7 separate regions of the Homo sapiens genome follow, and all the other regions are reported to be linked to region 1. The links are microRNA targets in miRTarBase. Many come from high-throughput screens and were not tested one by one. Region 1 holds a microRNA gene; each other region holds the end of a gene's coding sequence.

Region 1 (3,110 bases):
TGCTTTTTTTGAGATGTCATTTTAACCTTAATTCTTTGAAAGGTATTACTTTACTCTTGCATAGATTTTTTTTGTTAGTTTGTTTTGATCTTATCCCTATGTGTTTCTACTTTTTGGTCCTAATTTTATAAAAATATCCAGGTTGTAGATATATCTGTTAATACGTAAAATGTTGCTTTTTATCAGCAGATTTGACTTTATTTTTCATTTTTCTGCAGTTTTGGGAATATGATTTATAAGGAGAAGCGAGAATCTGTTAGTAAAGAAGATCTGGCAAGAGCTACTTTAGTTACTATCACCAATAACATTGGTTCTGTGGCACGAATGTGTGCTGTTAATGAGGTAAAAAAACAAAAAACACAAAACTTGAATTATCAAAAATGTGAATTGGAGTCCTATATACACCTAGCAGGGCTTCTTCACTTTCCCTAAGGAGGCCTCTGGGATTGAGATGTAACCCATTAAATGCCAAGACTCATTAGGTATATATGTTACGTATCCAGTTGCTATATTACTTTTAAAGAAAGTAGCAGATAATTCAAATTGAAATAGGAGAAATTTATTCAGAATTTTTTTTCAGAAAAACACAACCTAAATCCCTTGAGGATGTAAAAGAAAGTTCTAAGCATAAGACATTTTGAGATACTTTGTGAAAGCATTTTTTTTAGTCTTAATTTTGCATTTGGAAGGCAGCTATGCTCACCACTATACCACCAGTGCTTAATGTTGCATTTGATTAGTGAAATTCTTGGAAGTTTTCTTACTGCCCTCGGCTTCTTTACAGTGCTGCCTTGTTGCATATGGATCAAGCAGCATTGTACAGGGCTATGAAGGCATTGAGACCTGTTCTTCATGATATTTGAGTGGTGTTTATTGTTACAAGAAAAGTGTGAAAAGGATATACTGTTAGATTGACCATATAGTTGGGATTCTTTGTTTGGAAGAGAATATATATATTTAATTCTAGCTTCCTTATATAATAATAGATATATTTGCCCGTTTAATTTTTATAAATATCAAATACTTTAAATGGATTGGGAAGTACGCTTTTCGAAGGAACCCTTCATTTGTTCATTCATTCATTTATTCATTGAGTAAATATTTACTGATTACCAGATGCCAGACATCGTTCTGGGTATTTGGAACATATTAATGAAGAAAACAAAGATCTGGCTTTGTGGAGCTTGCATTCATTCTAGTGACATATTAAGTAAATTGTGTAGTGTGTATTAGGTGATAAGTGCTATTTTTTTAAAAAGAGACCATCAAACAGGATAAAGAGGATTGGGAATAGGGCAGAGAGTGGTAGAGGACAAATTGCTAAGTAATTGAGTGGTTAAAGGAAAGCTTTATTGAAAATGTGATTCTTAGGCAGAGGTTTGAAGGAGGTGAGGGGGAAACTGTGCATGTAGACATTTTGGGGAGAAAGCTTCCAGCAGAGAGAACAAATATGCAAATCCTCTGAATTATTCTGTATTTAAATCCAGAACTTGGTCTCATCAGTTTTTTAATAACTTAGAAACTTAAGTGTTAGTTGGTTGATGGAGTTACTAGTAGACCATGTTGGGAGCTGACAACAATTTGAGACCTTTATTCTTAGCCCTTTATGTCTAAATTTCCACTGACCAATTGAGTTAACAATAATTTAGGCCATGGTTTACAGTATCCCAACTTATGTACAAAGATTTCTACTCAAAAGTCAGTATAGTGTGAGAGTCGAAATAAGTTTTCTGGTGATTCAAACACCAGTTCCCCTTTGTAAGATTTCCTAATCATAGAGATAATCTAAGAAACCAAATTAGTGTGGAATCTTTGCAGAGAGAGAATGATTTGATGAATCAGGCAGGGGACGGAGAAAGAATGCTAGAATCCTAGGGGAATGCACATGCCAGTACCCCAGTCAGTATTACTCTCCAATTCTGTAGAATCCACAGTTGCATGTCATTGTTCAACATGCATTGCAATGTGTGGGCCAAGTTTGCTACTTATCAACTAAATGCATTTTATAGTACTTACCATGTTTTGATTTTTTTTTTTAATCACATCAGTAATGTGTCTCCAAATGACTTTGTAAGGGGGCTATTTATTGGCCATTTTCAAAAACAAATCTCACCTGAAATCATCTGCTAGAGTCTTTCTGGAACCTTTTTTTAAAAGTAGACTTTATTTTTTAGATCAGTTTCAGGTTCACGTAAAATTAAGTGGAAAGCTCAGTGAGTTCCCATATACCACCTTCCATACACACACAGCCCACTTCCATCCTCAGCATCCCATAGTAGAGTGATCATGTGTTACAGTCCATAACCCTGTGCACACATCATCATCACCCAAAGTCCATAATTTAGGGTTCTCTCTTGGTGTTACACATTTTGTGGATTTTGGATGATGTGTGCAGAACTAATTTTTAAATATTCAGGATTATACAGCTATATGCCAGGAATGTAGTAGGTGTTATACTAATAAAGCGTAGTTGTGTTTTTTTGCATTTTAAAATAAATTTTAAATAAATATTTAGAAACCTTTTATATTGTAAAATCTATTATTTTTACAAGTTTTTTCTTTGTTCTTTTCTTTTAGAAAATAAACAGAGTTGTCTTTGTTGGAAACTTTTTACGTGTCAATACCCTCTCAATGAAACTTTTGGCATATGCACTGGATTACTGGTCAAAAGGTCAACTAAAAGCATTGTTTCTAGAACATGAGGTATGGTAGGAAAATGTTTTTTGTGAATTTTAATAGCATGTTTTTTAAGAGACAGGGTCTTGCTCTGTCACTCAGGCTTGAGTTTAGTGGCACAATGATGGCTTACTGCAGCCTCTTCCTCCTGGGCTCATCAATCCTCCCACCTCAGCCTCCCAAGTAGCTGGGACCACAGGTATGCACCACTGTGCCCAGAAAATTTATTTTTATTAATATTTTTTGTGGAGACAGGATCACTCTTTGTTGCCCAGGCTAGTCTGGAACTCCTGGCCTCAAGCAATCCTTTATAGGTGTGAGCCACCATGCCCAGCCTTAAGTAGTAGAATATTGGTTCCTTCGCTTCAGTTTCAGTTGTGGGGAAGAGAATTACAATAACCTGTTAGGCACCCCCAGATTTTTTTGTATTCATT
Region 2 (3,110 bases), not on the chromosome of region 1:
GCTGGGTGACAGGTGTGAGCCACCGTGCTGGGCCATAAGCAAGTCTTCATATATTTGATGACAGTGTTTGACCACCCCAGCCAAAACTTCTCTGGCCTGCACATCCCTAATTCTGGCAGATGCTCCATCTCCACTTGTTCCCCATGGGTGCCCCTCCCAACACACACACGTACACGTGCACACACGCACACTTCCCCAAGTGACCTACCAGATACCCCCTCGCTCTAGCCCTCAAGGGAAGAGCTGGGCTCCAGGAGTAATGTTCCTTTGGTTCTTCATGGCTCCCACCCCGCTCCTTCAGGTCTTGATTTCAGAAGGACTGGGGCAGTTTGCTCAAGATCCCAAGTTCATCGAGGTCACCACCCAGGAGCTGGCCGACGCCTGCGACATGACCATAGAGGAGATGGAGAGCGCGGCCGACAACATCCTCAGCGGGGGCGCCCCACAGAGCCCCAATGGCGCCCTCTTACCCTTTGTGAACTGCAGGGACGCGGGGCAGGACCGAGCCGGGGGCGAAGAGGACGCGGGCTGTGTGCGCGCGCGGGGTCGACCGAGTGAGGAGGAGCTCCAGGACAGCAGGGTCTACGTCAGCAGCCTGTAGTGGGCGCTGCCAGATGCGGGCTTTTTTTTATTTGTTTCAATGTTCCTAATGGGTTCGTTTCAGAAGTGCCTCACTGTTCTCGTGACCTGGAGTTAACCGGAACAGCGTCTTCATTCATTTCTGTTGGGACCAGACGCGGAGCCTGGGTGCGCGAGCCGCCCTCCGGGAGGAAGGCGCCCGGCTGCGTCTGCAGAGGCGGGGAGAGGAGGCGGCGAGGGTCCCGGGGCGCGAGGAAGGCGCCTGCCCTCTCCCAGCTCGCAGGCCCCGGGCCCGGCCGCGCCTCCGCGGGGAGAGCACCCCGGCTTCCCGCGCGCCCTCACCAAAAGGACCCTACAGCAAACGGGTGTCTTTCGACTCTGCTTGTAGAAACCATTTGCACATATTCTGTACGAGCCTCGCTGTCTCCCTAGAGCCAGGGCCCTGCGGATTTGGAGAAGGGAGCGGGGCAGGACTTCCAGGAGGACCCCAACCCGGCCCGGAGAGGGAGGAGGAGGCCTCCAGGGGCGCGGAGCTCTGGGGATGGGCGTCGGGCCGGCAGTGGTGCGGCTCACTCCGTCCCTGCCCACCTGCGACGGGATCCCCCGACCGGCACGGGCCACGCCGAGCTCCCGGCCAGCCGCCGGCCCGCAGGCAGCGCGAGGGAGGAGCTGCGCCGCCGGCTCCGCCCAACCAGGTGGTGCTGAGCTTCCGCTGAGCGCTCTTTTGTTTTGTGGTTTGACACTTTTCTTGACAGCATGTTGCAGTTTCTTTTCGGTTTTGGTTTTTTTTAAATGTTTTATTTTGCTTTCCCAGCGGGAGGGGAGGAAGAAGAGTGTTTACAAAGTCCTGTAGCCCCCTCACCTTTCTGTTTTCACTTTTGCCAATGTACATCGGGTTTGGTTTTCTTGTATTATTTAAACGGTTGTGGTTTCCTTTTTCCACGGAGGTTCAATAGAAGCCGCTGCAGGAGAGTTTTACCAACCATTGTGTATGCCCAATAATTTGTTATCATTTCCTTAGGTAGTAACCTATTTTTGTTCTGGTTTGGTTCGGTTATCTAATGGAAAGGTAACTGGCAATGCACTTGATGTGGTCTTGCACATGTGGGTGATAGAGTTGGGTTCCTTTTTATGCTGGGTGTACAGGTGGGTTTGGGAGAGAGGAGCATGCGCGAGAGAGTCTCCGAGTGTGTGCGACGCGTGTGTGTGTGGTGGGTTGTCTGTGTGCATATGTCCTGCCCGTGTATATGCACCCACACCATGTGCCCGTGCACACCAGTGACTACGCAGTCCCCCCTTTCTGGTTTAGCTGTGGGAAGATCTGAATCTGGGGCCGTTTGAAAGCAAAAACAAACCACTGTCTCTGCTTCTGAAACGGGAATCAGTAACTCTTTGCATTTTCTGTCCCACAAGATATGCAAAAACAATGCAATAATATTCATTTAAAAATACAATTGTGAGTTGTGTTGGCATTAAAACTGTATTTTAAAAAAAGACAGAAATTTAAGGGAAAAACACAAGAAGGCATTTTGCTTCAATATATTCCGTGTAATGTTTTATTGCATTGATAATGTTTCTGTTGAAGAAACCGTTATACTTGAATTCAGGTCAGTTTCAGTATTTTTCAAATATTTTTTTAAAACTGAATTGCAATTGTGCCAAGCGAATATAATGAATTGAATTAAGTTGGTTTTCGGATTCACTTCTTGTATATTTTGCTGCATGTAAAGTAAATCATTTTGTATTTGGAGTGTGACAAGCTTTACCTTTGAACTCAAGTGCTTTTCTATATGTGGTTGGGGGAAAGGGAACAAGTTTTCTTTAGTTTGCACAATGAGCAAAGGTATCACCAGTGTAGTCATTATTCTGCTCTCCACAAACAGGTTTGGACATTACTGTTTTGCATATCTTGTGTTTGCTTACATTTCCCTCAATTTTTCCAAAATCGTTTGCTGGGTATGTTTGTACCGCCTCTTGCTGTGAGAGACCAGGACCTATTTTATTCCAGTCTTCACTCTGTCCACTCTGCTCTGGTCATCTGATTTGGTACTTCTCCAAGAACAGCCCTTCACTGTGAGGTGCAGGGAGGCGTTCTGATGAGCCCTCAGTCACTGGGCCGTCATCCGCATCCCCCATGGAAGAGGTAGCTGGCTTTCCCTTCCCTTCCACCACACGGAATTTTCTCTTTGGCTTCCTTAGGAAAGTGTACACTAACCGGGAGGATAAAATTAAAGTCAGGCTGCTTGGAGGGAGGGGCATCCTCACTTCCGGATTCTTGTTGCTCTACCCAACAAGGACAGCAGGGGCTCGAGAAAGGAACTGGTGAAACCCTGATCCATCTGAAAGTCAACTCTGCGTGCTCCTTTCTCCATCCCTTCCTCACTCTGGAGCAGCCTTTCCTTCAGGCTTGCCCTAATGTTTGGGCTGCCGGGGAGGGGGCCAGGACAAGGGAAGAGGCATCCGGAGCTCACAGTGGGGGTGGGAACAGATTTTTGTGGGGGCATCTCTAATGCTCACTTATATCTCCCTAG
Region 3 (3,110 bases), not on the chromosome of region 1:
GTAAAACTAAATAGCAGATTATTTTCTGTTTGGCTGACTGATTGATTACCTGTTACCTTCTTAGGCCTCTTTGCACCTCCACGTGCCTTCAGTGCAATCTGACGAGCTGCTTCACAGTAAACACTCCCACCCACTTGACTCAAATCAGACTTCAGATGTCCTCAGGTACAACTCTTTTACCATTAACAGTTTGTCACTGCAACTTTAAAAGAATATAATGTTGATTCTTATATATTTTTCTCATTTTTGGCAAGAATTTACAGTTGTGTACCAGTGGATCTCTAGATAAACACTGCTATTCTAACTTGAGTAATCTACTTTTGAGAATAATTTTTATGGAAATTGCTTCTTTCCCCTCAAGGACTCTCTGTTACACTCTTTTTTAAGGTGACTTTGAGTCTTAAATGCCATAATTGAAAACTGCTTCCAAAATCTAGGTTGGAAATAAATAAATGACTTATGCAGTTTATTTGCTTTTCAGGTTTGTTTTGGAACAGTACAATGCACTCTCCTGGCTAACCTGTGACCCTGCAACCCAGGACAGACGCTCATGTCTCCCAATTCATTTTGTGGTGCTGAATCAGTTATATAACTTTATTATGAATATGCTGTGATCTTCATTTGATGGAACTGTGCAAGAAAAGAACAAGGAAAAATGGATGTTTCGCTGCAGGATTAAGTTACAATTATCTTCTCAGTGAAGGTCATTTGTGATGGGGTCTAATTCTTATTACTTCAACAAATATTGTTTTGACTTGGGGGGAGGGGCTATAACCCTGCTATTTTTCATTGACTCTATTGAACTCTTTAGGATGATGACTGATCATACAAAACGTATTATAACATTTTCGTAGCAAAATTAACCTTTTTTTTTTCCAGTCACAGTATTTGTGAAAAGTAATGAGCCATAGTACCCAGTCATGTTAAATGAATATTAAAAGCATGGAGAGGAAACATGAGGAACAATGAATTTCAACATATGGCTTCAGAACATGAAGATGTTCTTGTATGGATTATAGTATCTAGTATTCAAAAATGCCTGCATCTCTTCTCTTATTTATTGTAAGTTTTTAAATGTATAAATTGTCTTATATTTCTTAACCTCTTTTATAAAAATTTTCCTAGAAGGTTTATACTGCCTTCTTGCTTTAAAGCAATTGGTCTAAAATATATGTAATCGTCTTAATTAAAAAGTTGCAGTAGGGTTGCTTTTAGAGTATTATTTTTTTGTAAGGGGGTGGGTGGGACAGTAAATTTGTATTGTCTCGATGTACAGTTTAACGGGGATAGAGGGGGAATAATGTCCATACCATTGTGTGTGGAGGATTTACAGCTAAGCTGTAGTTGCAGAGTACATGTACAGTAATGAAGTTCACTGTGTTTATAAATTGAAAAGGTACCAGGTCTTACAGCATTTTATATATCACATCTTTACAGAATAACATGATGGCAATATACAAGTGGTATTGTTAGGTGGTTTAACTTAGAATAAAATGAGAATTCTTCAGTTATATTTTGTACTATGGTTTAGGGCTATGACTAATATTTCAGGCCATTTCCGGTGAAAGAAACTTAGTTTTACAAGAAAAACCATTTGCTACTGAATGCTTAAACTAATTTTAGTGTTTAATGTTACATGCTTAAATTTTTTTCAGTTTTAACAGTGGCATATTTAGGCATGGAAATATTATTATGAAATTTATTTTCAGGATCTGCTATAAGGTTGAAATTTAGCCCAGCTCTAGGCATTTTACAAATTATTTTTCAAGCAGTCATTCTTGATTGTTTGACTTTTTTTTTTAAATTAAAGATTGGGAATGTATGTGAGAGTATGCATATGTATGGGTGTGTGTGTGTGCGCGCAATCAAACTGTGGTGTAAATAGATTCTCAGTGAATTCTGGTATTCAGACTCTATTCCACTAGTGAAAGAACCATTTTTTAAACTTCCCTTGCCTTTTTTATTTATTTAATTTTCTTGGTTTGGAGATGTCAGTCCCAAACACCAGAGTCTGTACTTTTCTATAACACAGCTCAGATTAAGGTAGGGCATATGCCAAGGAGGTTCTCACCTCCCTAAAGAAGGGACTTGAATTTTAGGGACTTTAATTCACCCCTCCTTCAATACAACTTTCCCCCTTCTTGTTTGCACATGCCAAGATAACTGCTTTTATGCAGGCTGTACCCCCTTGAAAAATCCTTTCTACAGTGCTGCTCACAAAAGAGCCCAAGTTCGCCTCCTACCTGCATTGCTGACTTGAATTCACAGTCGCCGAGTCTACCTAGCTTTCTTGGAAGCAGTCTAGCAAAATTTCTATTTGTACGTTCACTAATTATCTACAAGGACAAAATCAGTTGTATTTACAAAACTCTACTTCAGTGTTTGTTTTAGTTTTTTTTTTTACTGAAACTTGTTTTTGTGAATACTCTGTGCTTAGAATTAAATATCACTTTCTTATGAACAACATAACTTCTTCAGATTGTGTATATGAAAACATTAGCAAGTCTTGTTTTTTCTATGAAGCAAACACAATTGGTGACAAAGGTTGTCAATCATTTCTTCAAAATTATAATGCAGTTCTAATGGTCAGCATATTTTGATATTAAATTTAAAGATCACCTCTCTGCATTTGTTTTTAAATTATGCTAATACACCACACATTATGTTGGTATGTTTTGTTCTGTACTTTCTTTAAAAAAAAAAAAAAAACTTGTCTGAGATTTGAAGGAAAATGTGCTTATTTGGAATTTCCATAAAAAGAGTATCCTTTTTATACACTTAATAGTGACTTTACAAAATAAAAGTTATATTCTCAGTTGTTTAAAATCACTAACCTATGATAACCACACCTCAATTTGAAAGTAGATTTAAAATTATTCCCTGACAGGTTATTTAATATGGAGCCATAAGGAGGGAACCCAGTACACAATTATTTTTTATTTGGGAATCAGGGAATAGTTCCCAAATATACAGGATTTATTGATAAGATTTTTTTTCTTCCCTTCATATATCCATTCAAACTCAATGGAAAGTTATTAAATAACCATTAGAAAAGCTCAGTAGACTTATTTGAGAAATTAAGCCTTGTGCAGGATGATGGATTTGACTTA
Region 4 (3,110 bases), not on the chromosome of region 1:
GTGCGCTGGAATCTCCTCCTTTCCCAAATCCTCTTCCCTCCCGCAAAGAGATGGCACCACAGGCTGGAAAGCATGGGGATTTGGGGGTGAAGGGCCATGGCAGAGATGCTCAGGGAGAGGCTCTTCTCCCCACCCAGGGCTCATCCCTCTGAAGGGGGCTCCAGCAGAAAGTCCTGGGATGGGGTCTTGCTGGCTCTCTGGGAGCTCCTTGGCAGGATGCTGGAGCCTTGGCATGAATGTGTGTTTCGGGGGTGGATTGTGAGAGCAGGGTTGGGGGGTGCAGGCCCCCAGGTTCTGTAAACCCCACCCAGAGCCTGCTTCCTCCCACCTCCTGTCTGGTCCAATACCTTTCCTTATACCTGCCTGCGTTTCCCCGGCAGAGCCACTGGCCTTCCCGAGAAGTACTGCATTGAAGCTGAGCGCAAAGCTAACATCCTGCCAGCTACCTCTGTGAACTGAGGGGAGCCTTCGTGGCCCTCAGGATGCCTTCGGGGGACAGATTCTGCCCAGTCTCTGGGCATCCATAATTGCTGCTAACCTAGACATTTCATAGTTACAGATTAAATCTACTTGACTTTAAGGAACAGCTTGGCTTTCTTGTGGGAATGTGGCTGCTACAGGGTACTGAAGGTGGAGTAAAATAGGATGGGGGGAACCCGAGTGTGGGTGGTGTGGGGCTGAGGGTAAGGGAATGGGAAGATGCTCTTTTATGATGGTTTCTCCTAAGCCAGGAGGTCCCTTTGTCCTGGTGTCTCCTGGCCTTTTTGTGATTCCCTGGGATCACAATCTTGTCTCAGCTCCACCCTGACGCCCAGTTCAGAAGCATTTCAGGGCATTGAGGCAGAGCTACAGTTGCCTCTCAGTGGGGGCTGGGGCAAGGCTTGGCCAGGCGGAGCTGGTGAAGGAGGCACCAGGGCCAGGTGAGGCAAGGCTCTTACTGGGATCACACCCATGACTCAGATCACATCTGTGGAGGGAGTGAAGTTTGAACCTGGGGCTCACTCTGCCTGTCTCAGCTCTCTCCCACCAGAACCCTTTCAATTCCAGGCAATGCTGCAACACAGACACAGGCCCATGCCCCACTAGGGCACACCAAGAGCCCTGCACTCCCCACCCTGCCAGTCCAGTCCCCTCACCCGAACTCAGCCCCTCCTGTGGCTGGGCTCTCCTCAGTCCACCTCACTCCCATAGGTGGGGCTCCCAAACCATTTTCGTCTGTTTTTAACTTGTCTCACTTTGCCCCAAACTATACTTTAATCATTCATTCACTTATTCAGATACTGACTGAGTGCCTACCACATGCCAGGTACATTTCAGGCACTCACTGAGCACAACAGACCTTGCTGCCCACTCAGAAGCTGCTCATTTATGCCGGTCTGCTCCTGTTTTCTCCCCTGAGCTGCTCCCACCAAATTTCTTGTACCTTTGGAATCATCTCTGCCTTTTTGGCCTCTCACCTGGTTGTCAGGTGCCCCTTTGGGGCTGGACTGCTAGCTTCTAGGGATGGAGCCATGTACCCTGTTTTTGTATGCCTAGGGGAAAGGGCTTTCCTCCAGCTGCTGTGACATTGAGGTCCCTCTCTACCCCTGGGGATGGATTCATCTCTCAAATCCAGAGCCCAGTCTTGCCTTCCCTGATGGGCCCTGCACTAGAGGAGGTGAGGAATCTGTTGGGTGCATCCTGGATGTTTACAACTCCAGGTTACAAGGGCCTCAGGCAAGAGTCCTCTTTTCATAGGGCCCAGGGAGAGTCAGTAAGCTGTTTCCTGTGCTTCCTTTTCCTCAGGACAGCCACAGCTTCCCCAGGTGCCTTCTCCACCTTTTCCACCAGGAAAGATTGTTGCCCCGCCCGACCAACTGTTTGGGAAAGAGGCTTTCTCACCGTCCCTGCTCAGCACCTTTAACTGCAACCCTCCTTCCTAGGGAAGCTGATGCCTTCCTCCCTAGGGGTCTTGGGAAGATGTGGTACCCAGCCTCGGATGGGAGAGAAGACATGGCAATGCCGCTGAGGATTCTGGGACTCATCTGCAGTTGGGGCACTGGCAAAGGTTCTCTCTGAGCATCACCTGTTGCTTAGCTGATGCCTGCAGGGACCAGGGAACAAGGCTTTGCCTAGTTCAGGAGACACTCTTTCCCAGGAAAGCTAGAAAGAGCCTGGGTGCTTAAGAGTTTGCCTAGGCTCACACCTAAGTCTTCCATCTCAGGGCTGGAAAAAATGGGCCACTATGGAGAAAGGATTGAGGAGAAAGGGGGTTCCACACCCACTGCTAACTTCTGAGCCCACTTAGACAAAAATGGGCCAACATCACAGGTTGACAGTAAGGCCAGCATTTGACCAGAGCTGCTGCTGGTGAAAATGTAGGTCTTTGGGTCCGGGAAGATCCCAAAGCCTTACTAAAAGTGAGTGAGACTGTCGACTGGGCCTGGACACAGGGGCAGTTATAGGTTACGTGAATAAAGGTCTGGCTTTGGAGAAGAGAGAATATAGCCACTTCTGAGCAAGTGAAGATGGTTTGGGAGAGAATCTCAGGGCTCTGCCTCAGGGTTGACCCTTTTACTCTCATCAGGAGTTCTCCATCTTGGAATTGGCCCATGAAGTAGAACAGAGTTTCAATTTCTTCTCTTGGGATTCCTAAGAAGTCACACCCAGGCTTTCATGGGCTCCAGAACTAGTCTGAACCAGTAAGAATCTAGTTCTAAGATGCCTGACACTCTTGAGAGCCAGGCAGGTAGTTGGGATCTGAGGCCAGTCAACTACATCTCAGCAATCTTTTATAAACCCTCTACCAATCTCACTCAGAAATGGCAGTGGGGATAATTACAGAGAAATCTCCCAGTGTTAAGTGGGGACTGGTGGGGTTAGGCTGCATGATAGTAGTGGCAGACTCAGCAGGACACTGTGTGAGCTGAGCCTGCAGAGTAAGGCTAGGGCCTGGAGACAAAGAGAAAATGGGCATTCTTCTGAGGACTCCAGTGGGTTCCTAGGCTCAGTCTTGCTGCTAGAGGTTGGACCTTTAGTGGAGGTGCTTTCTGCTGAGGAGGTTTAAGCTTTCCCCTTCTCATGCTCAAAGGTGGAGATGGTGAGCTCTGTGTACTCCTCTAAGCCACTGA
Region 5 (3,090 bases), not on the chromosome of region 1:
GGCCTGTGATGGTGGGATGGGGATGGCCAGACCCCTGACTCCACAGTCAGGACTGTTCTGGCTTATCAGCCACCCTGGCACAGAGAAGGTCACAGGGATGAATATGCCACGCACAGGGGCAGCACAGGTTTAGTTGGGTTGGGGGAAGTACCATGGAGCCGGCAGTGTGAGGGCTGTGCTGTGAGGGCCCAGTAGGATTTGAATGTACAGATGGGCAGAGGGCATGTGCCCAGCCCAGGCTCTGGACTCTTGCCACAGTGTGTGGCAACTTCCAGGGGCTTGTTTATTGGTGCTGCGTGGGGATGTCTCCTTTGTTTAGATGGCGTCAGAGGCAGAGCAGGTGTCAGTGAAGGGGAGTGAGCACAGGACCAGCTGTCTCCCAAGAGGCTGAGGAGCTGGCCCAAGGCTTTGGGGGCTGGATTTGTGCCTCACCCAGCTCCTGCCTTGTGGCTGTCTCCACAGTCCTCCCTACTGACTGGCTTTCTGCCTTTGTTTTCTCAGCCATGATGAGGAGCAGCCCTGGGCCAGGTGCCACGGTCAGTATGAGAGGCTCCAGGATCAGGCTAGAGAACCACGCGAACCAGGTCTGGGGAGCTATCTGTGGGAAAGGTCAGGGCCTGTTTTTCTCCTAAGCTGCTGGCTGTTCAAGGGACCTACCTCCTTGTCCCTTCCCAGTCACAGGTCCAAGGGGCAAATAGCGAATTCCCATGGAGGAGAATCACTGCACTCCAAGTGGACGTGGCTGGTAGGTAAGTGTAACTTTTTCTGCTGCTGTTCAGTGGTACTGAGAGACAGGAAAGCCCCACTGCTCCCGCCCCACCCTTTGTGATGGGTTATCAATGACAGCTAATAAAGCCACCTCACTGCTTCCTCATGCCAGCCCTTGACCCACAAACACTGGAGGAGACCTGCCTCAGGTCCCATCCCCCACCACAACTGGGCTTTAGCTGAAAGTTGTGGGTTTCTGAACTTCAGGAATAAGTCTTTGGGGACATTCGTTTGGCCAAGAATTCATTCCCTCATCTGCCCAAGAGCAGCTGCCCTAGGTGATAGGCAAAAGCCACATGAAAGCCACATCCCACAGCTCTTGGGCGTCATTTATTTTTTGCATAGGCATAAATTAGGATCTGGAGATAAAAAACTTAAGAACCAATAGTGCAGCATTTGTGACAGGAGAGCGCAAAACAAACCCTGGCTGCCTCGGGATGGAGCGGGGCGGCCTCACCACCACTGCATCCAGCCTCATGCTCCAGAGCGGATTTGAGGCTCAGTGCTGCAGTGAAGGCCTGCCCGCCTTCTTGCCCCTTCCCCGCAGCCAGACCACCAGACACAGCCGGAACCAGTGCCCCAGGCCCCTCTCCACGGCCAGGAACAAGAAACTGAGTATCACCCAGTGCCCCACAGAACGGGGCTAGGAATCAAGCCCTTAGCTTTTCAGTTAGAAAAACAGACCTTGAAAAATATATACATAATACAGTGGGGCCTGCTGGCTCTAAAAGTCCCCTCCTCCCCCTTCCCTATCCAGGGTAACTTCTGCCAGCCTCTTCCCCCAGCCCCCACCAACTGCCCCACAGAGAACAAACCAGAAGGGCGACTACCTGAACAAGAGCTGCAAGAGCCCAAGGGGGCAGCCTGAGCGGACGACCCCTACATCAGGGCCTGGTTAGATGTGGGGGCCGGTGCAGACAGACCTCGCACCCCGATACCCTGAACGTCCCCACAAGAGCCCAGGAGTTCCATGCTCCCCACTCTTCTTGCTATAACCCCAGATGCTAATGGCCCCAAAGACAGGTCTAGGTCTCCATACCCTGGGAGAATGTGGAAAGCAAGCTCAGGGGCACTGGCAGGCCCTAGCAGGAACAGGGAGCAGGGTGGGCCCCAACCTAGCATCAGGAGAGAGAAAAGCAACTACCGTCCCCAGCAGAGGGGAAGCCTACAGGGTTGGCCCTGGGCCCCTTAGAAGATCACAGCAGCCAGTCCCCTTTAGGGCACAAGAAGCCCCATGGCCCACTGCTACCCTCCCCGGGACAAATACACACTTTTGTCGAAGGCCCTCAGGGACCCTGTGGTTCATGCTTCCCTAGGTGGAGGGCACTAACCTTGTAGGAGAGCTGGGCAGCTCTCCATCAAGTGCTTCCTGCCTGGGGAAGTCCCATCCTGCTCTGGAGCTAAGCACCCTCCTCCCAGAGGGCCTCGCTTCCTTGCCCAGGGGCAGAGGCAGCTCACCTAGCCCAGGCCGTAGCTTGCCCCTCCCACAGCCCTGGCACCTGCTTCATCAGCTCCCAGGCACCAGCCCCTGACCCCAGCCAAGACCAGTCAGGTCCTACCTCTCCCAACTTCCCAGTCCCCCATGATATGCTACATATATACACACTCCCAGGATGGGAAGCAGACGCCACGGGCACAGAGGGAAGGAAGAAGGGAGCTGCTGGAGCCTGCTAACCGCCTCGAGCCACCTGCTGCTCAGGAGACCCTGCCCGTCCTTTTCATCTGCATGGGGCCACAGGCTCCTCTCTTGTGCTCCTAGAAGTCAGAGCGCCGAGCAAGCGTGTGGGGGAAGCGGCGGGGTGCTGTTCACCCACTCCCAGATGGCTGGCAGCAGGCACCAGTAAGCAGGGCTAGTGGGCGGGCTCCCCATGCACTCTGAAGCGGTAGATGCAGGTGTACTCGGGGTGGCCCCAGTTAGTCAGGATCCGCAGCTCCACCACCTGGTACGTGGCCATCGTAGGGGCCTGGGTAGAGAAGAAAGGGATTAAGAGCATCAGAGACCTGTGAGGCCTCACTGACAGAGAAGGTGGGAAGGGGAGACAGCCTCGCCTAGGGCCAGATGGCTCCCCTGCTCCTTCCCTGGGGCTCTGAAGAGAACCAGGCTTCAAAAGCTCCTATCTTTAGCCTCCTGAGCAGTGTTTCCAGCCAGTGGGTTAAGGGGCCACCTGTAGCACACTTCATCTGAAACCGGAATGAATTCATCCACAATCGTTTTTTTATTGTGATCAACAGATAGAACCACCTTCATAGAGGGCTTCATAGATGCTGATGTGGGGCACACTTGATTCTTTTTCTCCAGTGCCCATCGGGCCTCTGTCTAGC
Region 6 (3,110 bases), not on the chromosome of region 1:
CTGGAGAGAAATCCTACAAATGTGAAGAATGCGGCAAAGCTTTTATACAGTCCTCAAACCTTACTGAACATATGAGAATTCATACTGGAGAGAAACCCTACAAATGTGAAGAATGTGGCAAAGCTTTTAATGGGTGCTCCAGCCTTACTCGACATAAGAGAATTCACACTAGAGAGAATACCTACAAATGTGAAGAATGTGGCAAAGGCTTTACTTTATTTTCAACCCTTACTAACCATAAAGTAATTCATACTGGAGAGAAATCCTACAAATGTGATGAATGTGGCAATGTTTTTAACTGGCCTGCAACTCTTGCTAATCATAAGAGAATTCATGCTAGAGAGAAACCCTACAAATGTGAAGAATGTGGCAAAGCTTTTAACCGGTCCTCACACCTTACTAGACATAAGAAAATTCATACTGGTGAGAAACTCTACAAACCTGAAAAATGTGACAATAATTTTGATAACACCTAAAACTTTTCTAAACATAAAAGACACCATCCTGTTGAGAAACCCTAAAAATGTGAAGAATTTGACAAAGCCTTCCAATGATTGTTACACTTGCTTGTAGGTAAGATAATTTATATTGGAGAAAACTTTATAAGTGTAAAGAATGTGACAAAACTTAACCAATACTCACATCTTATTGCACAGGAAAGCATTTTTACTTGAGAAAGATTGTACAAGTATAAAGAATGTGAAAAAGTCATTGATATCTTTTCACATCTTACTCAACACCAGAGTTTATACTTATTAAAAGCATTATAAATGCAATTACTGTCAAAAGAAATTTCAGAAAACATAACACTTTAAAGTGAAGAAGCGTGTTTATTTTGAAGACAAACATAACAAATATAAGGAGCATAGGAGGGTTGTAGTACCTTTACTTGTATTACAAATCTTATTGTACGCATTTTGTACTAGAGAAAAACACTGAAGCAGTTGCTCAAACTTTGTTCAACATCAGGGAATTTATATTGGAGAAAAATCCTGCAAATGTAATGAATTTGGAAAAACATTTTTTTTCAAAAACTACGGCGTAGAAAACATGAATTTATATTGAAATGTGTTTTTGCAGATGCAGTAAGTATGAAAAATATTTAATCCAAAATTGAGTCTATGTAAATATTAAATAATTTACAGTAGAAATAACTAAGGCACTGACACTTTAGACATTACACTAAAACAGAGTGTTGAGTATAAAAAAATCTATAAGTTGTTAGATTATTTGTAAATAACTTTAAAAGGAGTAGAAGATTCTTTGGAGAGTTATAATTACATTGAAAGTATACTTTTTTTCTTGAAAAAATTATGGCTTATTTGAAAAGTAAATAATGATGAAATTCAACTCTCAAATTACTTTATTTCATTCCTATTGTATTCACATGTGAAAGCATGTGATAAATTGTTGCTGTGTCAGATATAGGAGAGATTCTTTTTTATTAGATGGGCATTATTTATGGTTTTTTCTGTGGAAGAGTATGGGCATTAAAATGTAAGGTTTATGATGAAAATCTAAGTGGAGAGGCCCTGTTAGTTTACTTTTCATATTGAGTGATGCATGAGGTAGGTGTTTGGAGTAATATTCTGCATCATAGAGAAAAGCATTTTTAATTTTACTTTAAATTAAATGTAATTAAATTACTAGTGAATCATTTTACTAATTGTACTTTTATGCTATAAATGCAGTACATTTGAAAATTTTTAGATTATGTATAAGCTTAATTTTATAATTAAACATTTCTTTAACATGTTAAGACTATTGTGCATTCAATGAAGCGTTATTATGCCATTAACTTTAACCTTTTTCACTTTACTCAAGGAGGGAGGTAAAAGAGAGTAACAATATGTTATTTGGTCATGAGATGTTAATCTTTCTGTGCCTGGCTTATTTCAACTAATATGCTGTCCTCCAGATTAACTGATGTGATCAAAAATAATAAAATTTTCTTTTAGATTCCACATAGCAAAAGCAAGAGTAAGAGAAAAGAACAAATCTGGAGGCATCACATTACCTGACTTTAAACTATACTATAAAGCTTTAGTCATCGAAACAGCATGGTGCTGGTATACAAATAGGCACATAGACTATAAACGTGTGTGCAAGTATCTTTTTTCATATAATGCCTTTTTTTCCTCTGGATAGATACCCAGTAGTGGGATTGCTAGATCAAATGATAGATCAACTTTTAGTTCTTTAAAAAAATCTCCACACTATTTTTCATAATGGTGCTAATTTACATTCACACCAGAAGTGTAAAATTGTTCCCTTTGCACCACATCCCCACCAACACTATATTTTTTTATTTTTTAATTATGGCCATTCTTGCAGGAGTGAGGTGGTATCATATTGTGATTTTCATTTGCATTACTCTGATAATTAGAGATGTTGAGCAAGTTTCCATATGTTTCTTGGCCATTCGTATATCTTCTTTTGAGAATTGTCTATTCATATCCTTAGCCTACTTTTAAATGAGATTGTTTTTATTTCTTGCTGGTTTATATGAGTTTTTTGTAGATTCTGGATCTTAGTCCTTTGACAGATGTATAGATTGTGAATATTTTATCTCACTCTGTGGGTTGTCTGTTAACTCTGCTGATTATTTTTGCTCTGCAGAAGCTTTGTAGTTTAATTAAGCCCCATCTGTTTATATTTGTTTTCGTTGCATTTACTTTTGGGTTCTTATTCATGAAGTCTTTGCCTAAGCAAATGTCTAGAAACGTTTTTCCAATGTTATCTTCTAGAATTTTTACTGTTTTAGGTCTTAGATTTATGTCTTATGTCTATCTTGAGTTTATTTTTGTATAAGTTGTGAGATGAGTTTCCAGTTTTATTCTTCTACATGTGGCTTGCTAAACATCCCTCCATTATTTGTTCAATAGGGTTTCCTTTCCCCACTTCATGTTTTTGTTTGCTTTGTCAAAAATCTGTTGGCTGTAAGTATTTGGTTTTATTTCTGGGTTCTCTATTCTGTTCCATTGGTCTATATGCCTATTTTTATATCAGTACCATGCTGTTTTTGTGACTATGGCTTTATAGTATAAAGTTATGTAAACTTTAGGATTGTCTTTTCTCATTCTGTGAAGAATGATGTTGCTATTTTGATG
Region 7 (3,000 bases), not on the chromosome of region 1:
GACAAAAAGAAAAACTTTGGCAAATAATAAATTACATCAAATGGAAAGAGAATTCTATGTATATTTTTTAAAAGATGAAGATTATCTGAAAGATATTGTGGAGAATTTAGAAACTCAATCAAAGATTAAGGCTGTTAGTCTTGAAGATTGAAAATTACTGAAAACTGAATCTTTATTACGTGTCCTCTTTTATTTATTAGAAGACTGTGTATAATAAACACTACTAAATTTTTAAAATTTGAGGTCAATGGAACATTTAATTTGATGAATTGAACTATTATATTAATTTGTCTTTTTTCTCATGTAGTACATTCAGAATACCAGTGCTTTTTATGACTTGAGCATGTGTTTAGTGGTACTTAGTCCTGGTAATTTTTTACTTACAGGGAAAAAGCATTATTACATAATGCAAATATTTTTTAATATAGTTATCTCTCTCCTTTTTAGAAATAGAAATTTTCTGCCGTTAAATTTTTTTTTGAGATAGAGTCTCACTCTGTCTCCAGGCTGGAATGCAGTGGCACGATCTTGGCTCACTGCAACCTCTGCCTCCCGGGTTCAAGTGATTCTCCTGCCTCAGCCTCCCAAGTAGCTGGGACTACAGGCGCACACCGCCACACCCAGCTAATTTTTTTGTATTTTAGTAGAAAAGGGGTTTCACCATGTTGGCCAGGATGGTCTCAATCTCTTGACCTCTTGATCCCCTCTCCCGGCCTCCCAAAGTGCCGGAATTACAGGCATGAGCCACCACGCTCAGCCGCTATTAAATATTTTAAAATGTGTAGAACTTCTAGTCAGCATTTTTAAATCTGTAGACCTTAATATGTGAAATAGCCAAGTCCCCTCATGTTTGACTGTCAAATAAAATTCTGCTGCTCAAATTGTATTCCTCCATAATTCCCTGCTATAGACCTTTAGGCTGTTTTAATGTCCCTACTTGTACCACAGAGTATTAGGACTTCCTTGGCCTGCCTGCATTCATTTTAGAGTCTGAATTCTGGGGACTCAAAAGTTTCTACAAGACAGCTGAGCAGTGCTTTGACTTTAATGTGACTTACACATCATAAATGACTTTCAAATGAAATTTGAATTTCAAAATTCTGTAAAAGTGGTTGCTCAAAAGATGTATGATACTATTTTAATCAGTTTAAGAGCAAAAATGTCTAATTGTATTTAACAATGGTATTTGGGCAGCCAGAAAATATTTTAAGCGTTGCTCTAAAATAATTTGAAGTAGCTCATCTGTTATTACATCAGATGCTTCTTGAGTGCCCAATTTATACATGGCCTGTGGTAAATACCATGTGAGCTTTGTAGGAATACCTTTAAGAATATTCCTCACCTGTTCGTAATATGGAATGCCAATCTAAAAACTACATGTTTTGGGTGGTCTTTATGGAATTTTTTAGCTATAACCATCAGAAAACAGGCATACCTAGATGACAGATGAACCTTCTTGATTTTTGAAACCCATTGAACAAAAATATTTTGCCAATTATTGTGTTTATGTTATTTAAAATTTTATGTAAACCTTAATTTTGTAGCAGTAAATTTTGTTTAAGATTTTGCTATCAGCTCCCTATCACCTGAGCAACTTTTTTTTTGTTGTATATGTTTTTTTCTATTCTATTTCGGAATAGAGAATTTACTTAAAATTTTTATTTTCTCCAAAAATGTGGAAAATATGTCACCTGGTTTCCTGGTTTATGGTAGCATATTCTGTTTAAATTAGTGTCACATATTTAGATGTGTGGCCAGACGCTTGATTTATTAGTTAATTTTTGAGACAGAGTCTAACTGTGTCACTCAGGCTGGAGTTCAGTGGAATGATCTCGGCTCACTGCAACCTCCGCCTCCCAGGTTCAAGTGATTCTCCTGCTTCAGCCTCCTGAGTAGATGGGATTGTAGGCGTGCACCACTGCACCTGGCTAATTTTTGTATTTTCAGTAGAGACGGGGTTTCACCATGTTGGTCAGGCTGGTCTCAAACTCCTGACCTCAAGTGATCTACCCGCCTTGGCCTTCCATAGTGCTGGCATTACAGGTGTAAGCCACCATGCCCCTGCCCAGATGCTTGATTTATACTGTCCCCACCCAAACCTTGACTTGCTCAGCCCAGGGGGCCAGCAGGGCAGATCAAGGCACGGATGGTAGTTGTGTGTCTGCCGTAATTACCCAAGTTACTTATAATCGTTGTGTTACTAGGTAGGTTTATTTGAAGATTTATTTATTTATTTATTTATTTTTTATTTTTTGAGACGGAGTTTCACTCTTGTTGCCCAGGCTGGAGTGCAGTGGCATGATCTCAGCTCACTGCAACCTCTGCCTTCTGGGTTCACGTGATTCTCCTGCCTCAGGCCTCCCGAGTAGCTGGGATTACAGGTGCCACCATGCCTGGTTAATTTTTTGTATTTTTAGTAGAGACGGGGTTTCATCATGTTGGCCAGGTTGGTCTCGAACTCCTGACCTCAGGTGATCCACCCGCCTCAGTCTACCAAAGTGCAGGGATCACAGGCATGAGCTTCCGCGCTCAGCCTATTTGAAGATTTAATAACATTTTTCAAACCTCAGGATGTATTTGAGTAGATTGCTTCTAAATTGGTCACCTAGAAAATAAGTTATCTATTTACTATGATACCTGGATTAAGCCTCTAGCTATTTTGCTTTTTTCTTTCTATCTATATTATTGGATGATTGATGCCTATTTTCTGTGGTTATGAATATAGACATTTTAAATGAAAGTTGGTATATAAATTTTTGAAAATAATTGTATTTCCTGTTTTATAGTCTTAGGATTAATATATGGGATTTATCTTATGTTAATCTTACATTTAGGATTTTGTGAAAATGGAAAATTATGAGGCATTGGTAGGCTTTGATCTCTGTAATACACCGCTCTCCAGTGTTGCTCAGAAGATTATGTCTGCTATGCATTCAGGTGATTTAGTGGATTCTAAGACTTGGGGAAAGAGTACAGAGAGTAAGTAATTTTTATGAACCT

What was found. Region 1 holds the annotated microRNA hsa-miR-103a-3p (AGCAGCAUUGUACAGGGCUAUGA, at 809-831, shown strand). A microRNA usually pairs through its seed, bases 2 to 8, with sites in the 3' UTR of a target mRNA and lowers its output. Matches are read on the target gene's strand: a 7mer-m8 pairs with bases 2 to 8, a 7mer-A1 pairs with bases 2 to 7 and ends in A, and an 8mer does both.
Region 2: the mRNA of CACNA1C is a reported target of hsa-miR-103a-3p. Seed matches in the 3' UTR shown: 7mer-A1 at 2,296-2,302.
Region 3: miRTarBase lists MED13 as a target of hsa-miR-103a-3p. The part of its 3' UTR that is shown has no 7-base or 8-base seed match.
Region 4: the mRNA of CFAP45 is a reported target of hsa-miR-103a-3p. The part of its 3' UTR that is shown has no 7-base or 8-base seed match.
Region 5: the mRNA of SUN2 is a reported target of hsa-miR-103a-3p. Seed matches in the 3' UTR shown: 8mer at 1,157-1,164.
Region 6: the mRNA of ZNF680 is a reported target of hsa-miR-103a-3p. The part of its 3' UTR that is shown has no 7-base or 8-base seed match.
Region 7: the mRNA of HAUS3 is a reported target of hsa-miR-103a-3p. The part of its 3' UTR that is shown has no 7-base or 8-base seed match.

The regions. Positions count from the first base shown.
Region 1 is chr5:168,558,625-168,561,734 of GRCh38, reverse strand. MIR103A1 (microRNA 103a-1) reads left to right here and starts at 762; the gene lies at 762-839. It overlaps PANK3 (pantothenate kinase 3), which reads left to right. Exons shown (of 7, transcript NM_024594.4): 5 at 219-342; 6 at 2,578-2,703. MIR103B1 (microRNA 103b-1) reads right to left here and starts at 831; the gene lies at 770-831.
Region 2 is chr12:2,690,599-2,693,708 of GRCh38, forward strand. CACNA1C (calcium voltage-gated channel subunit alpha1 C) reads left to right here. Exons shown (of 47, transcript NM_000719.7): 47 at 302-3,110. The coding sequence ends at 601. CACNA1C-AS1 (CACNA1C antisense RNA 1) reads right to left here and starts at 559. Exons shown (of 4, transcript NR_045725.1): 1 at 471-559; 2 at 209-381. RefSeq lists a silencer at 1,019-1,288.
Region 3 is chr17:61,943,972-61,947,081 of GRCh38, reverse strand. MED13 (mediator complex subunit 13) reads left to right here. Exons shown (of 30, transcript NM_005121.3): 29 at 65-165; 30 at 482-3,110. The coding sequence ends at 614. Among named protein-coding and RNA genes, the nearest start is that of INTS2, 18 kb to the right of the region's middle.
Region 4 is chr1:159,869,834-159,872,943 of GRCh38, reverse strand. It overlaps CFAP45 (cilia and flagella associated protein 45), which reads left to right. Exons shown (of 12, transcript NM_012337.3): 12 at 381-580. The coding sequence ends at 459. Among named protein-coding and RNA genes, the nearest start is that of VSIG8, 8.7 kb to the right of the region's middle. RefSeq lists an enhancer at 2,974-3,110.
Region 5 is chr22:38,733,649-38,736,738 of GRCh38, forward strand. It overlaps SUN2 (Sad1 and UNC84 domain containing 2), which reads right to left. Exons shown (of 18, transcript NM_015374.3): 18 at 1,086-2,732. The coding sequence ends at 2,619. It also overlaps a transcript of GTPBP1 not described here. Among named protein-coding and RNA genes, the nearest start is that of SUN2, 21 kb to the right of the region's middle.
Region 6 is chr7:64,518,527-64,521,636 of GRCh38, reverse strand. ZNF680 (zinc finger protein 680) reads left to right here. Exons shown (of 4, transcript NM_178558.5): 4 at 1-1,759. The coding sequence ends at 476. Among named protein-coding and RNA genes, the nearest start is that of ZNF680, 43 kb to the left of the region's middle.
Region 7 is chr4:2,229,078-2,232,077 of GRCh38, reverse strand. HAUS3 (HAUS augmin like complex subunit 3) reads left to right here. Exons shown (of 6, transcript NM_001303143.2): 6 at 1-3,000. The coding sequence ends at 151. POLN (DNA polymerase nu) reads left to right here. Exons shown (of 26, transcript NM_181808.4): 3 at 2,835-2,979. The coding sequence starts at 2,847. Among named protein-coding and RNA genes, the nearest start is that of HAUS3, 12 kb to the left of the region's middle.